Homo sapiens: one gene and its partner. The protein of the gene in region 1 binds, or shares a complex with, the protein of each later gene. Each region holds a gene or a part of one and is shown in the gene's direction. Other genes may lie near its edges.

Region 1 (8,049 bases):
GCACATTCTCAGCAGCACCTCCCTCATGGCTGTCTGACACCTGCCCACCTACCTGGCTCTGACCGTTCCCACCACCATCTGCATGTCCCCACTGGGCCTGAGTCTAGCCTGGGAGCCAGGATACTGGGGTCCTTTTCCCACTCTTCCACTGACTTGCTGTGTGACCTTAGGAAGTCTCTGCCCCTCTCTCAGCCTCAGTGTCCCGAGGGCCCCGAAGCATTCCATTCTCGTGGAGGAGTTTCCTTGCTGAGATTTCAAATAGTCCTCCCCACCTCAACTGTCACCACTGCTAAGGGACTCTATCCATTGAGCACATTTTCCTAAGGCCCTGCTGTCTGCCGAGGAGCGCCAAGAAGATGTCACTTGTTTACACACGAACTGCCACATCCCCAAGCTCCGTTCTTGCCCCTCGTGTCCTAGGCCCAACCCAGCCTCCCAGACCTCACTTTCCCCATCAGCAATACCTGGTGTTCTCCCACCTTGAAAGGACTCTTGGCTCCTGCCGGGTTCCTGCTCAGGCTGGAATTGGGAAAATATGCAGGTGACATTTGTTCATTCTCTAATCCCATCCTCTCACCCATCCATTTCCTCACTCAGTGGAGATTTGCCAAATGAATAAACGACACCTTTGAGGCCCCAGGTGAAGCGGGGCCCTACTCCGGCCTCTGCCTTGGGCCTCGCCTCTGTCCTCAGGTCCTCTCAGAGGCAGATACCTAGGGGAGCTGCTGCTGCCTGCTCATTCTAGCTTCCGATTCCATTCCCAGCCCCTGCGTTAAGGTCCCTGGAGAGGTGGCGTCAGTGGGGGTGAGGAAGGGCATCTTCCTGACTCCTCTGCCCAGTGCTGGAAGGAGCATGCCTGGGTTAGTGGGCCAGGGGCCAGGCAGCTGGGGGCCTTTGGGGACCAGAAGGGGAGATGTGCTCCCAGAGCCTCTCTGCTGTAAGACCCCAGCTTTTCCTGGAAGATGGGACTCTGGGGTGTGTGGTGCTCACCAGAGTCAGGCCACCCACTGGGCTCGGCAGGAGATAGGGAGCCCCATCACCTGACCACAGCCCCCCACCAACATTCCCCCAAAATGCAGCCTAGGAGGCCGCAGTGCTCTTCTTCCTGCCCAGACCAAAATGTTCCTTTTAGTCCTCAATGTTTTATATTCTTTTTGTTTTGAAAATCTCAATTTTAATCAGGGGTTTTAAAAGAAAATTGAAAGCCTGAACCTCCATTTTTCTTCTTGGCTCCAGTTTTGCTGGTCCTCTGGAGAACTCTTCGTGAGCACTGGTGCCGTGACCCACTTGGGATCTCTGCTGTGCCCTTCTCGGGCTTCCAGACCAGGTGTAGCAAATGAAAAAGTGCAGTTAATTCAAGAACAGGAATCCCTGTGTCCTTGCTGGGATTTCCTTTTGGGAACCTGACTTTCCGACTCCAGATCCTGCTGTCTGGATCAGTGTTCTGGCTGGAGGTGCTGGATTCTCTGATTTTGCCTCCTCACTCTGTGTCTGGCTTTGCTCCTGGGTCTTGGCCCTGGGCCATATGAGGGGCCAGGAAATGAACGACAAGGAGGATAAGAGTGTTCTTTCTTGAAAGCCGGGACTTCCCCTCAAGAACCTGGGCCTGGGGCCGGGACTCTGCATGACTGGGAGCAAGTCACTTAAACCTCCTGTGCCTCGATTTCCCCCTTCTACAAAGTGGGGCCAATGATTCTTGTGTGTCAGCACTGTTACTACCGAGTGCTGAGTAAGGGCAAAATAATACCCCTTTCTCTATGTATCTCTGTATGCACACGCACTATATATATATATATATATATATATACATTCATGTAATCACCACTTCTCGATGTCTATTTCAAATCAAGGCTCCTGAGTAGGGGGTGAAGTGAGCCAGCTTGCACCTCAGGCTAACACATAGGACTTTGCTCAGCCATGTCCCCTGGGATACAGGGGCACACCAGGACCAAGTGGCAGACCTGTGGGCTTCAGCCTCGGGGCCGGGGCATGCCTGCCACCCCCTGACAAAAACAGGTTCCACAGTGCTACCCTTGCTTCCTGCCCCTTGAGGTGGGCCAGGCTGGCTCCTGGCTATGCAGGGATCTCTGGTCCCCAGGAGACCTTGGGGGCCAGGCAGGTAAGGATCAGGGGTGATAGGGGAGAGCAATTACTTTGTTCACTGTATGCACCCGCGGGGGCCTGGGAGTCCCCATTTGCAGGTGGGTAGGGCCTCCAGCCCACACCACCCAGACCTAGGCTTCCCTCTTCTCAGGATCCACCACAGGGTTAGGGGACAGGAAGCCTGTTCTATTCTCAATAAATCTTACAAAATTCCAAAAAGACTTTCCTGTGTCCCTCTGTCCCCCTGGGGGGAAGGGACAATGGAGGAATATTCCCCAGGCCTGGGCGACTGTCCGCTGGTCAGAGGGAAGGCCCCGCTGCCTGCCCGGTGCACCTGTGAGCTGAGATTGTGGGGATCATTCAGTCATTCCTTTATTCAGTAGATCTGTACGGGGCTGGCTTTGTGCCAAGGCCTGCCCCGGGCACCTGGGATGTGGGGAACCAGGCATAGCAATCCCTGCTCTGGGACAGTCTACAAACGAGCAGCGAGAACAAAGACATACTCTGGTCATGACAGACACTACCCCGCACATTACTGATGGGGCAGTGTGGGCCTGCTGGGTTAGAGACGGCCTACTCCCTGATCTGTGCATGAAGGGCTGGGAAGAGGAGATGGGCCTTCGGGGCACAGGAAGGTGTGGGGGGACCAGAGCGGAGGCTGCTGAGGGCAGATGCAGGCATCTAGGGCCAGGAAGCTGGTGTGGTGGTGGGGAGAAGCAGGGTTGGGATGACTGAAAGCAGAGTGGACGACTCAATGAAAAACGACTTGGGAGACGGGGTGAGTGCAGTGTGAGGGCAAAGTGAACCGAGATGCCTCGCTTTCTTCATGGGACTGAGAAATGGGTATTGCAAATCGTGTGATCTGCTTAGCATAGTGCCTGGTTCATAGCATGGCTGAACACAATGTAGCTGTCATCCTGGTGTTTGGAGGCCGCCCTGTCCCCCATAACCTGCCCACCTCTCTGCCCCATTCCCACAGCTCACTGCATTTTGTCCCTGCTGCCAGTCGTGTGCCATGGGCTCTCCTGTGCTCCCCCGGGGTCTCATTTCCCCATCCGTGTAGGGCTGACGCCACTGGCCCCGCCCAGCCTGGGAGGATGGAGAGGGGGGACTTGAGGAGTGGCCAGTACTGGGTTTCGGCAGCAGGTGCAAATCCCAGGTGGGGACTGTGTTCCAGGGACTCCTGGACTCCTGTTAGGCCAGCAGGCTAAGGGGCAGACGGCATCCTGGGGTCTTCCTGGGACAGGGTCGTCGGGTCTGAGGGGACCCAGGCCCTAGCAGAAGCTGACTCCTGTCACGGTCACTTCCCAGCGGTGCTCAGCCCGCCTGACGGAAGCAGCTGGGCAGTGGGGCCTGTGACCAGCAGGCGGCGCTGGCGAGCTATAGCGCCCCTTTGGGCCCCCACCCCACCTTCTGGGCAGCTTCCCTGCAGACACCCCAGTTATGGGGGCTAGGGACCCAAAAGAGACATCCTTCTGCCACCCAGAGCTGCCCTGGCGAGGTGCACTATGGGGCCGCCGACAGCTGCGTGGCTGCCGAGGGCGGAAAGGAGAAACTGTCATGTCCCGATAGGGCCGCGCGAGGTCTCCATCCTCGACAACGCTAATAACAAAGACGTGTGCTCCTCTTTGCTTGGTTCCCCCCACTCCTTTAAATCACAGATTTCACTTCAGTTTATCTGTGTCGCTGTCACACGTGGGGTGGCTCCCAGTCAGCTGGTTTGGCAAAGTTTCTGGATGATTACGGAATAACATGTGTCCCCAACCCGCAGAGCAGGTTGTGGGGGCAATGTTGCATTGACCAGCGTCAGAGAACACACATCAGAGGCAAGGGTGGGTGTGCAGGAGGGAGAAGGCGCAGAAGGCAGGGCTTTAGCTCAGCACTCTCCCTCCTGCCATGCTCTGCCTGACCGTTCCCTCTCTGAGTCCCAAACAGCCAGGTAGAGGAGGAAGAAATGGGGCTGAGACCCCAGCACATCAGTGATTAAGTCAGGATCAGGTGCGGTTTCCTGCTCAGGTGCTGAGACAGCAGGCGGTGTCCTGCAAACAACAGGAGGCACCTGAAGCTAGCCTGGGGGGCCCACGCCCAGGTGCGGTGCATTCAGCAGCACAGCCAGAGACAGACCCCAATGACCCCGCCTCCCTGTCGGCAGCCAGTGCTCTGCACAGAGCCCTGAGCAGCCTCTGGACATTAGTCCCAGCCCCAGCACGGCCCGTCCCCCACGCTGATGTCACCGCACCCAGACCTTGGAGGCCCCCTCCGGCTCCGCCTCCTGGGAGAAGGCTCTGGAGTGAGGAGGGGAGGGCAGCAGTGCTGGCTGGACAGCTGCTCTGGGCAGGAGAGAGAGGGAGAGACAAGAGACACACACAGAGAGACGGCGAGGAAGGGAAAGACCCAGAGGGACGCCTAGAACGAGACTTGGAGCCAGACAGAGGAAGAGGGGACGTGTGTTTGCAGACTGGCTGGGCCCGTGACCCAGCTTCCTGAGTCCTCCGTGCAGGTGGCAGCTGTACCAGGCTGGCAGGTCACTGAGAGTGGGCAGCTGGGCCCCAGGTAAGGATGGGCTGCCCACTGTCCTGGGCATTGGGAGGGGTTTGGATGTGGAGGAGTCATGGACTTGAGCTACCTCTAGAGCCTCTGCCCCACAGCCACTTGCTCCTGGGACTGGGCTTCCTGCCACCCTTGAGGGCTCAGCCACCACAGCCACTGAATGAAACTGTCCCGAGCCTGGGAAGATGGATGTGTGTCCCCTGGAGGAGGGAAGAGCCAAGGAGCATGTTGTCCATCGAATCTTCTCTGAGCTGGGGCTGGGGTTAGTGGCATCCTGGGGCCAGGGGAATAGACATGCTGTGGTGGCAGAGAGAAGAGTCCGTTCTCTCTGTCTCCTTTGCTTTCTCTCTGACACTCTTTATCTCCGTTTTTGGATAAGTCACTTCCTTCCTCTATGCCCCAAATATCCCATCTGTGAAATGGGAGTATGAAGCCCCAACAGCCAGGGTTGTAGTGGGGAAGAGGTAAAATCAGGTATAGACATAGAAATACAAATACAGTCTATGCCCCCTGTTGTCAGTTGGAAAAGAAATTAACTTGAAGGTGGTCTAGTTCTCATTTTTAGAAATGAAATGTCTGTCTGGTCATTTTAAAATGTGGCCCTTAAATTTCACGCCCTCACCACTCTCCCCCATCCCTTGGAGCCCCATGTCTCTAGTGAAAGCACTGGCTCTGCCCCCAGCCCTCATGGCTCATGCTGGCATAGGGCGCCTGCTCCACAGCCTGGGCACCATCTTCAGACAAGTGCCCGGTGGCAACTGCCTGCTGGCCCTGTTGAATCCACATCTCCACCAGGCATCCAGACTAGTTCAGGTCTCTGGAAGGACTGTGGGTTTGCTGTGTCCCAGAGCTCCAGGGCAGGGGTCAGGGCTCGGATGTCGGGCAGTGTCATGGGCAGAGGATCGAATGCCCCGGCGGCTCTGAATGGGCCCTTGTGAAAAATTGATGCGCATTCTAGGAGACAGGTTGGGAGCCAGAGGGGCCTCATACCAGGGTCTGTAGGCTGGGGCTGCCTTTTAAGCTCCTTCCTGAGGCCGTCTCTGGGTCTGGCCCTGTGCTGGACAAGGCTGGAGACAAGGCAATGTCTCAGACCCTCTCCCATTGGCCACATCCTGCCCTGGATCAACTCGCCAACTTTGGGGGCAGAGGTGGGACTGACCCTTACCCTGACAACATAATGCATATAGTCAAAATGGGATAAAGGGGAATATAGAGGCTCTTGGCAGCTTGGGAGTGGTCAGGGAAGGCTTCCTGGAGGAGGTATCATCTGAACTGAGCCATGAACCATAAGTGGAAATTCACTAGTCAAAATTTCAGGTAGAAGGGCCAGTGTGTGAAGGCCAGGAGATGGCAAGAGCTGGCGTATTTCAGGAACAGTGAGTCACTGAGGATGTCCAAGTATAAGGGTAGGAAAGGGAGTGAGCAGTGAGAGAAAAGACCGAGGCATCAGCAGGGGCCAGATTGTGCTGGGCCTAGCGGGGCGGGCCCGGGCCCGGGCCCAGGCCCAGGTGCGGTGCATTCAGCAGCACAGCCAGAGACAGACCCCAATGACCCTGCCTCCCCGTCAGCAGCCAGTGCTCTGCACAGAGCCATCCTGAGGGCAGTGGGTGCTCTTGAGAGGTTTCAGGCAGGGTGTGCTGTGAGCAGGTCATGCCCAGCCCTTGACCTTCTGCTCAGTCAGGCTTGTCCTTGTCACCCACATTCCTGGGGCAGTCCCTAAGCTGAGTGCCGGAGATTAAGTCCTAGTCCTAAATTTGCTCTGGCTAGCTGTGTGACCCTGGGCAAGTCTTGGTCCCTCTCTGGGCCCCTTTGCCGTAGGTCCCTGGTGGGGCCAGACTTGCTACTTTCTAGGAGCCCTTTGGGAATCTCTGAATGACAGTGGCTGAGAGAAGAATTCAGCTGCTCTGGGCAGTGGTGCTGGTGACAGTGGCTGAGGCTCAGGTCACACAGGCTGGGCAGTGGTCAGAGGGAGAGAAGCCAAGGAGGGTTCCCTTGAGGGAGGAGGAGCTGGGGCTTTGGGAGGAGCCCAGGTGACCCCAGCCAGGCTCAAGGCTTCCAGGGCTGGCCTGCCCAGAAGCATGACATGGTCTCTCTCCCTGCAGAACTGTGCCTGGCCCAGTGGGCAGCAGGAGCTCCTGACTTGGGACCATGGTGATTCTTCAGCAGGTCAGTGTTCCCACCTCTTTGGGTGGCCTGTCCTCCCCAGGCCATATCCCCTCATCCATATGCTTACCCGTGGGACACCCTCCCCAGGGTGTTCTCTTGGAAAATTCCTGCCTAGGCTTCCAAACCCAGCCCTCCAGGCTGAGGCCTAGTCTGAAACCTGTTCCCTCTGCTGTGCCAGCTGGGGTTTCCTTCTCTCACTGGCTCACCCCACTGGGCAGAAATGAGTTTATTTACACACATCTCTGGATCCCAGGCAGTGGAACAGCATGTGCAAAGGCCCAGGTGTGGGAAGGTCCCTGGGGAAGAGGAGAGGAGGTTGGCAAGGCTCCCAAAGCCAGGCCAGGAAGGGCCCTGAGCCCAACTTATTCTTAGGGCCTTGGGGAGCAGTGACTGGAGGGCGGGGGGTGACAAGGCTTGAGCTGGAGCCCCCTGGGATTTTATGGGAAGAAGCAGAGGTGCTGGCCCGAGCTGAGTCCTCCAGCCCCCCTTCCTACTGAGGGCCACAGTGGCCTCTGACCCTCAGCCCTTCCCCGTGATCAGTCTGAGGCTCTAATGAGCTCCTGGCCTCCAGAGCAGGAGCCAGGAATGTGGGCCCTGAGCCAGGTGGGCCTGGCAGCAGGCCGTAGGGCTTGTGGGGCTGTGCATTATGGGGGCTTGGCCAGCAGCTTCTCGGTCTCCAGGGTCACCAGAGGCCAATGGCTCAGCCTTGCCTGGCCACCCTGAGGCTGCACGGACCAGCATGTTTGCATATGAGTGCGTGCGCGTGTGTGTGTCTGTGTGTGTGAGTGAGAGGCAGGCTTCAGGGCAGCATCAGGACAGACATTCTTCTATCCCAGGGGCTGGAGGAGACCCCCTTTAGAGCCCCTTGGCCTGAGAGCCTGTTCAAACGCCCATTAGAGATGGGCAGGATCTAGGAGAGGAAAAGTCCATTCGCTGAGTGTTTGCTGTGTGCCAGGGCCTGGGCCCCCATAGCCCTCCAGGGGCGTCCTCCCTCAGGGGGCCTCTGAGGCAGGCCTCTGGCTGATGGGACCTCCTCACCACCCCCTCCTCTCCTGCCCCTCTGAACGCTGACCCACCTCCAGCTGTGGGTGGCCTCTGTTGGGAGCAAGTGTCTTGTAGGTGAATGCCTGTTCTGCCTGCCCTCAAGCAGGAAGTACACTCAGCTCCTTCCTTGGTCCTGAAGAAAGCCCCAGCCCTGGGGAACCGGCCAGCTCTGCAGTTGCACAGGCC
Region 2 (7,637 bases), about 60 Mb from region 1:
TACCCTTCCAGTAACTAGTAGCAACCTTGGGCCAGGATGTGGGGGAGCAGGGCTTGGTCAGAGACTGTTTTCTCCCTCAGAGAACCAGCTTTCAAAGGGAGACTGCTCTTCTGTTCGCAGCACCAGCACAGGGTAGGAACTTGGTTACTCATTGGCTTAAAAGTATTTATTGCCTCTTCAGCAATCATGCATTTATGAGCATAGCTGTGTATTCTGCCTGAGGCCAGGCATCTGACAACCGGTTGGGATGAATAAGATCAGAAAGAGCCACCACTCTCTAGGAATTTGTTAATCATTCATTTATTCACATAGGCAATAAATATTGACTGAGCCCTTAATATATGCCAGGCAGTACTCTAAGCATCAAAAAACAAAATAAAGCCCTTGCTGTCTTAGACAGTACATTCCAGTAGGGAAGACAGGTAGTTAAAAGGAAATCAACAAAAGTATCATACAATGCCAGATAGTGATAAATTCTATGAAAAAATAAACTAAGATGGGGAGAGAGAGATAGTAAGTGACAAGGTAGGCAGTCACGAAGGCCTCTCTGAAGAGGTGACATCTGAGCAGAGACCTAGAAGAAGTGAGGAGAAGGAGCCACAGAGATACATGTAGAAGAGCATTCCCTAAAGTGGAAGCAACAAGTGTGAAGGCCCTGAGGCAAGCAGATGCCCGCCTGTATGGAACAGCAAGTAGGACAGTGTGTCCCAGAGGAATCGTGAGTGGAGAATGGTGAGAAATGGGTCGGAGGGGTGGTAGGGGCCTGGTAGGCCATGGTCAGGTCAGGATTTTCTTGTAAGTGTGAATGATTTACATTTAAAAGGAATTGTTCTGGCTGCTCTGTAGAGAATCCACTGAGGGGCCCAAGAGTAGAAGGGGACCTCAGTCAGGAGGCTCCTGCAGGAGCCCAGGCCAGAGGCAGGGGCTCGGACTCGGGTGAGAATGGGTCGGATTCAGGATACATGTTAAAGGAAAAACTGACAGGCTTTGCTGATGGATTGGCTGCGAGCGTAGAAAGAGAGGCATCAAGGGTGAATCCACATTTGGTGGAGACGGAGCAGGTTGGTGGAGACGGAGCAGGAGGTGGTGGAAACCTAGCGTTCCACTTCGAATGCTGTAAGTTTGAGACGCCTGCTAGAGGTGACTGAGAAGGCTGTAGGTCTGGCCTGGAGATAAGCATCGGTAGGTCCTTGGGGGTGTGAGTGGTATTTAAACCCCTGAGATGAATGAGGTCACTTAGAGAGACAGTGCAGATGGAGAGGAGACCTAGGACAGAGCCCGGGGTACCTCAACTTTTGGAGGAGAAGGAGCAGCAAGCGAGGAAGGAAAGCAAGGAGAAGCAGGGCGTGATTGCTGTGCCAGGCACAGGGTGAAATACTACAAACTAGCTGACATGTCAAGAGCCTCTGAAAAGATGAAGGGCACTGTCTATGTCCTTGATGGTGGTGATGCTTTCACACGTGCACATTTATCCCCAAACTCATCAGGTTGTATACACTAAATATATACAGCGCTTTACATGTCAGGCATACCTCAATAAAGTGGTTCCAGAAAAAGAAAAGAAGTCAGGTGTGGCGGCTCACGCCTGAAATCCCAGCATTTTGGGAGGCTGAGGTGGGAGAATCACTTGAGTCCATGAGTTTGAGACCAGCCTGGGCAACATAGCGAGACCCCATCTCTACAAAAAATACAAAAATTAGCCAGGTGTGGTGTTGTGCACCTGTAGTCCCAGCTACTTGAGAGGTTGAGGCAGGAGAATCAATTGAGCCTGGAGGTTGAGGCTGCAGTGAGCTGTGGTCACACCACTGCACTCCAGCTTGGGTGACAGAGTAAGACCTGGTCTCAAAAAAAAAAAAAAAAAGAAAAAGAAAGAAACAGAAACAGAAAGAAAAGAAAGAGAGAGAGACAGAGACAGAGACAGAGAGAACCCTAGACAAGAAAGAAAGAAAGCAAAAGAAAAAGAAAAGATGGATGATAAGAAAATGAGAGTCAAATAAAGCCTGGTACCACTGGGATGCACACTCTAAAGGCCTGGGAAGAAGTGTGGCTGGATCTATTCATCCCACTAACATCTACAGAGGGCCACTCGCTGCCCACTGCTGTGGATATAGAATTTATGTCCACTTATTGTCACTTAGTTTTATGTAACAAACACAGGACTTACTACCTGCCAGGCACTGTTCTGAACTCTTCATAATTATTAACTCATTAAATTAATACTAAAAAACAATGATTAATCTCTCATAGTGATTAAATCCCATTTTAAAAAGAGATGTTAGTCCTCATTTTACAGATAAGGAAACTGAGGCACAGAGAGGAGCAGACCCAGTTGGGGAAGGGGTTCTTTGGCTCTACCACCACACTCACAAGCCAGGCCTGTGTCTGGGCCACACACAGGCTTGTGGGGAGACAGGAGGGTAAAGGGAGAAAGTTCAGCACAGCTTGGTGAGTCCCATGGCAGAGTTGGGGACAAAGTGCTGTTGTGTGCACAGAGAAAGATGTGGCCAGCTTTGTGTGGGAGCCTAAGGAAAGACTTGGCCAAGAAGAGGCGACATTTGAAGTGAGTCTTAAAGATAGAGGAGGAGTCCACAGAGAGGAAATACTGCTGGTACCACCATTGCTAATGGCTAACCAGGGTGGCAGCAGGGAGCAGGTGGCTCGTCCAAGGGGGAAGCCAAGAAAGCTTTATGAACAGGTTCTACAGAAAAGGGCAGGATTAAATGACCCAACAAGCTGCACCCTGGGGCCAGATGCAGGAGGCCAGCATCCCTGAAGGGGCCAGTAGAGGGAAGGTTACCAGAACAGGTGAGAACCAGGGCTGCCAAAGAGGCCCAGACAGCAGCTGCAGCCTTGGGTGGAGGAACCTGCCTAACTGTGGCCCAGCAGCCAGCCCCCAGGGACTAGGAGCCTCAGTTCCTGTCTCCCCACGCCTCTCATCTCCTGCTTGTGCCTCCCGATGGCTGAACACAGCAGAAAGCCAGAGGGGAGAGGAGCCCAGGCAGAGCCCTCTGGACAAAGGGCAGGGTGGAGAAGGCTGGAGGCATGAAAGGAAAAGATCTAGCACACATTTTGGAGACCTTGAAATGTCCCAGGCATTGTCATACGTGCTTTACACATACTCACTCATTTAATCCCCGCAACAGCCCAAAGAGACTTCATCAAGCAGAACAACATGCATTATTTAATTTGTTCTGGCTCTCTTTCTCCCTGTTTGGCTGGGTGCACACCTAAAGTTGAATCTTCCTGAGTTGACTGTCCCATGGTTCCCCTGTGTAGCTATCCTGAAGGGCCAGTCCATATGGGGGAATACAGAGGGATGAGACTGGAGGGTACCACATGGCCAAACCCAGCTTTTGCCTCCAATACCCTAGACAAGGGGCCTGAAGATTGTGAGGGTGGAGATGCTCCCTGTCCCCTCCTCCCTCCCACACAGACCAATAGCACAGTGCCAGAGAAACATCAGTCAGCAAATGCTAATCTAGGCAGGGCTGGCAGCAGGGGCAGGGGGTAGCAGGGATGATAATAGAGATCCCCAACAGCTATTTGTAGATGGTGGGCTCCTTTAGGGCTTCTGTGCTTAATATCAAGAGGGATCCAAGAAAAGGAAAGGCTTTCTAAATCTAGTCGGAGAAAGAAGACTGGTGTCTTTCCCACAGTAGGTGTTCAATAGATGTGTAATGGACAAGTGGACAACAAAGGAGTTATATTTCATAAGTGGATACCATGTGGTAGATTGAAAAAAAGCAGAGGTTTTGGAGCCAGTAGGCATAGGTTGGGGTCTCAATTCTGTCACTTCTCTGAGCCTCTGTTTCCTCATCTGTAAAGTGGGGATGATAACGTTCACCTCAGAGGGTTGTTAGGATATTAAAGATAATACACGTAAAGTTCCTCAGGCAGTGGACAGTCAGTAGGGAGAGGCTGGCTGGGATAAGTGAGCCAGACAGAAAGAGACTCAGGCTGGGAGGCAGGTGAGGAGGCTCCAGACTCTAGAAGAGGGGACTTGGGCCTCATCTGAAATGAAGGCAGGATTCAGATGAGAGGAGGAAAGCTGTCCATTGTGGATAGATGGAGTCGCTGGGACCTACTTTTTTGTGATGAATTGGAAGTGAACTAAGGGGAGGCAGACCCAGAATATATGTGCTGAGGACCAGTGGAAAGGTGGTGACCCAGGCCTGGGCCAACAGGTCAGAAAGAAGGCTCTAGACTAGAGCAAATAGAGTTCACGTTTCATCAACGGACGCCACTGGGCACCGTGCGCTTGTGTGCATGACATGGTTCTGGGTTCCACAGGGAAATGAAGAACATGTTTGGAAGGAAGGGAAGAAAGGAGTGTGGGAGATTTACTGCGTGCCTAGTGCTTCGTATGTACCTGAGTACAGGGTACTGGGACAATGGTACAAAGCACCCTAGAGCAGGGGCTCCCCAAAACTGATCCTCGGGCTAGTGCTAGGCAGAATTCCAGAAGAGAGGAAACTATATAATTTTTTAATATTGGAAAAGTAATTTGATTTGGACCACAGGGAAGACTACAAAGAAAAAGTAATTTAAGTGATGGTGGTATTGTTACTGCACGTTCAGGCTTTAGAGAAACTTCCATCTTTCTCAGCTTTCTTTCCTGGTGCCTTTTAATGCCTGAAGAGTGAGGTGTGAGTGTGTGTTTTCACTCAGGTGTGGTCAGAGAACAAAGCAGTGCTGTTCTTTCTGAGTCTTTCTGAGATATTTCTGGGTGAGAATGATCCCTCCCTTTGCAGGATCTCCTGTGTAACCAGTTTTCAAGTTTTTGATGATCTATCACTTAGATTCATATTTAAAGAGCATTCTACACAAACCAGATCTATTTTCCCTGTTAGCTGGTATGGTCTATAGAGAATTGTTTAAATAGACAAGTCAGACATGGCGGTAGATGGAATGTTCTGAGTGAGGACAAGGAGATTCCAGTGTGTCAGGGGAAGGATCTGTTCCACTGCAGCTGAGTCCCACTTGGGATGTGGTGAAGCGAGCAATGGCAGAACTGAGGACAGGGTTTGAGTGACCTAACCGGTGACAGTGGGTGGACATGAGGCCGAAGAGCTGAGCTCTGCAGCTGTCTCAGGAGACAGGTAGGATGAGACCTCTGGGAGCAGTGGTCAGTGCTGGAGGGCTGCTGACAAGGGCCAGGAGCCCGGGACCTTCAGGGACAGGCTCCTTTCCACCAAGACCATCTCCAAGTGATCTGTGCTTGGCCCAGGGAAGGGAGAAAAACAGAACCCTAGACCCTAACATTGCAAGTTACCTTACTCTTCTACCTCAGTTTTCCACCTAATGCACAATAAACATGGTCTAAGGAGGACAGTTCCTCACTACTGAAATCTAATGCTACAGCAAGATACATTTCTGCAAAGAGGGATAAGAGGGAACTTCAGTCCTAAGGCCTCAGTCAATAAGAGATTCTCTGTCCCATCTTCTTTCTTGTGTCACCACCCAGGGTTATAACTAGGCTAGAAGTCTTTAGTCAGGGTGTCCTCTCTTCAGCCAAAGCAGACGTGATTTTTATGCTCCCCTTAGAAAGTACAACACTTGGGTTCAAAGAGTCATTCAAAAGATGTCCCATTTTCTCACTCATTATAGACCAAGCCAAAAGTGTTTTCTTAACAGTGCAGAGGAGAGAGATGGGGCTTAGAGATAAGAAAGGAGTTCTTGAAAGCAAAGGGTTGGAAATTTTGGCCTAAAGGGACATTGGGAGTTATTTTCCCCTGCCAGGCCTGAGTCACAATCAATGGTCATCGTGGCGTAGCAGAAAGAACATGGGCTTTGGAGTCAGACTTAGGTTCATATCCTAGCTCTGCTTATTAGCTGTGGGACACTGGGTGAGTTGACTTAACCTCTCTGATCCTCAGTTTCCTCAGCTGCAGCATTATGTGAGAATATTGCCCCAATGTGATAAACAAATGGAATAAAGCCCATGAAAAGCTCCTGGTGCCACCGCATGGGGCATTATGGGGACAACATCATTTCCCTTCCCCTTCTGTTCCCATGGTTACCTCCCTCCCACCTGAACCATGTGGGCATACCAGGAGGCAGGCAGATAAATTCATTCAATACTTCTTTATTGAGAGCTTATTATGTGTTGGGCACGAGAAATTTAGAACAAAATAGATCTCATCTTTCCCCTCATGGGATTTTTCTGTCCAGCGAAGGTGACAGAGAAAACAATTCACAGAGAAAACAAACCTTAAATTACAAATTGTAGTCGATCTGTGAAGGAATTGAAACATCTCCGGGGTGCAGGAGTCGGTTCTGTCTGGGTAGGTGAGCAGGGAAGACCTCTCTGGAAAGGAGGTGGCCAGGCAGGGAAGTGGGGGAAGCAGTCCAAGCAGAGGGAACAAGCATACGCCAAGGCCCTGAGGCTGGAGAGCGTTCGGCCTGTGGGAAGAACTGAAAGGAGGACTTTGTAGCCAGGAAGACTGGTAGGAGAGGAGATTGGGCTTTGATAAGTCAAAGTAAGGAGTTTGGATTTAGGTTTGGTTTGGGGTACAAGAAACTACTGAGCAAGCAAGCAACATATCTAATTTATAAAGATATTTCTCGCCCCTGCTGCTAGGAGAGTTCATACTCCTCCATCACAGCCCAGTGTGGGCAGCCCAGGCCTGTCTCAGGGAGGCACCCCTGCCCCACAGGCCTGAGCAGAGGGGGTGAGAGAATCCAGGCTATGTGGAGAGATGAGCTTTCAGAGGTGGTGGGTGCGAAAGGCCAGCCTCCCACCCTAAGATTTAGTACCACCCACTCAAGCAGATGCTTCCATCTCCTGTCATCTGGGAGCTCCTTTTTTTTTTTTTTTTTTTGAGATGGAGTCTCGCTCTGTCACCCAGCCTGGAGTGCAGTGGTGCAATCTTGGCTCACTGCAACCTCCGCCTCCCGAGTTCAAGTGATTCTCCTGCCTCAGCCTCCTAAGTAGCTGGGATTACAGGGGCATACCACTACGCCCAGCTAATTTTTGTATTTTAATAGAGACAGGGTTTTGCCATGTTAGCGAGGCTGGTCTCAAACTCCTGATCTCAGGTGATCTGCCCACCTCGGCCTCCCAAAGTGCTGGGATTATAGGCGTGAGCCACCGCACCCAGCCCTAGCTGGGAACTCCTTGCACTGAGGTAGGGAGAAAGCAAGGGTGCCCTTTTGGAGCAGGTGGGCTGAACTTCTGTAGCAACTAAAGCCCAAGCTGTGAGTCAAGCCTCCCAAGTTATTCTCACCTTTAATGAAATGCTCAGTCTGATTTTATAGGGAAGGAGGTACTGTCAGATCTAGGCCAGAAATCTGCATTCTGTACCCCCTGCTCAGGCCAGAAATCCCAAGGGCTGGGCCCAGCATGTCCCCTCTGTGGTGGGACGGACAGACTGCCCCGGTCTTCCAGAACCCTTGGGATACCCACAGAAAGAGGTAACGCTGCTCTGGCCCTCTTCTGAGGACGAGTCAGTGGAGAGCATGCAGCTTCCAGCTGCAGCCTCTCTATGAAGGGCTGAGGCCCTGGGCCGGGAGGCTGGAGGAGAGAGGGACCCAGTGACCCCCCAAGCTTCCACCTTGCTCTGTTACCCGTTCTTGGGCTGAAGAGAGACCCAAAAATACAGTGTAGAGATTCACACTGAGGTAACTCAGGGAGTGGA

Evidence for each region. Proteins that work in one complex are often made in the same cells at the same time.
Region 2: the proteins of MYO7A (region 1) and USH1C are in contact, whole or in part, in a crystal structure (PDB 5MV9), measured with the Homo sapiens proteins. Residues at the interface, in NP_000251.3 of Homo sapiens: Phe1946, Val1953, Ala1976, Lys1995, Lys1996, Trp1998, Gln2017, Pro2020, Lys2021, Arg2024, Tyr2026, Ser2112, Ala2113, Phe2114, Phe2115, Glu2116, Val2117, Lys2118, Ile2128, Ser2161, Gly2163, Asn2164, Thr2165, Tyr2166, His2168, Leu2181, Glu2183, Thr2184, Ser2185, Leu2186; in NP_001284693.1 of Homo sapiens: Glu450, Pro456, Ile457, Val461, Val462, Ser463, Tyr466, Glu467, Lys479, Gly480, Pro522, Tyr526, Asp527, Asp528, Glu529, Leu530, Thr531, Phe532, Phe533.

The regions. Positions count from the first base shown.
Region 1 is NC_000011.10:77,123,834-77,131,882, forward strand, and holds the start of MYO7A (unconventional myosin-VIIa), read left to right. Parts: upstream 1-4,412; 5' UTR 4,413-4,656; intron 4,657-6,755; 5' UTR 6,756-6,801; coding exon 6,802-6,819; intron 6,820-8,049. Other genes in the region: CAPN5 (calpain-5), read left to right, coding at 1-37. UniProt on the Homo sapiens protein: Myosins are actin-based motor molecules with ATPase activity. Unconventional myosins serve in intracellular movements. Their highly divergent tails bind to membranous compartments, which are then moved relative to actin filaments.
Region 2 is NC_000011.10:17,534,058-17,541,694, reverse strand, and holds part of USH1C (harmonin), read left to right. Parts: intron 1-7,637. UniProt on the Homo sapiens protein: Anchoring/scaffolding protein that is a part of the functional network formed by USH1C, USH1G, CDH23 and MYO7A that mediates mechanotransduction in cochlear hair cells. Required for normal development and maintenance of cochlear hair cell bundles.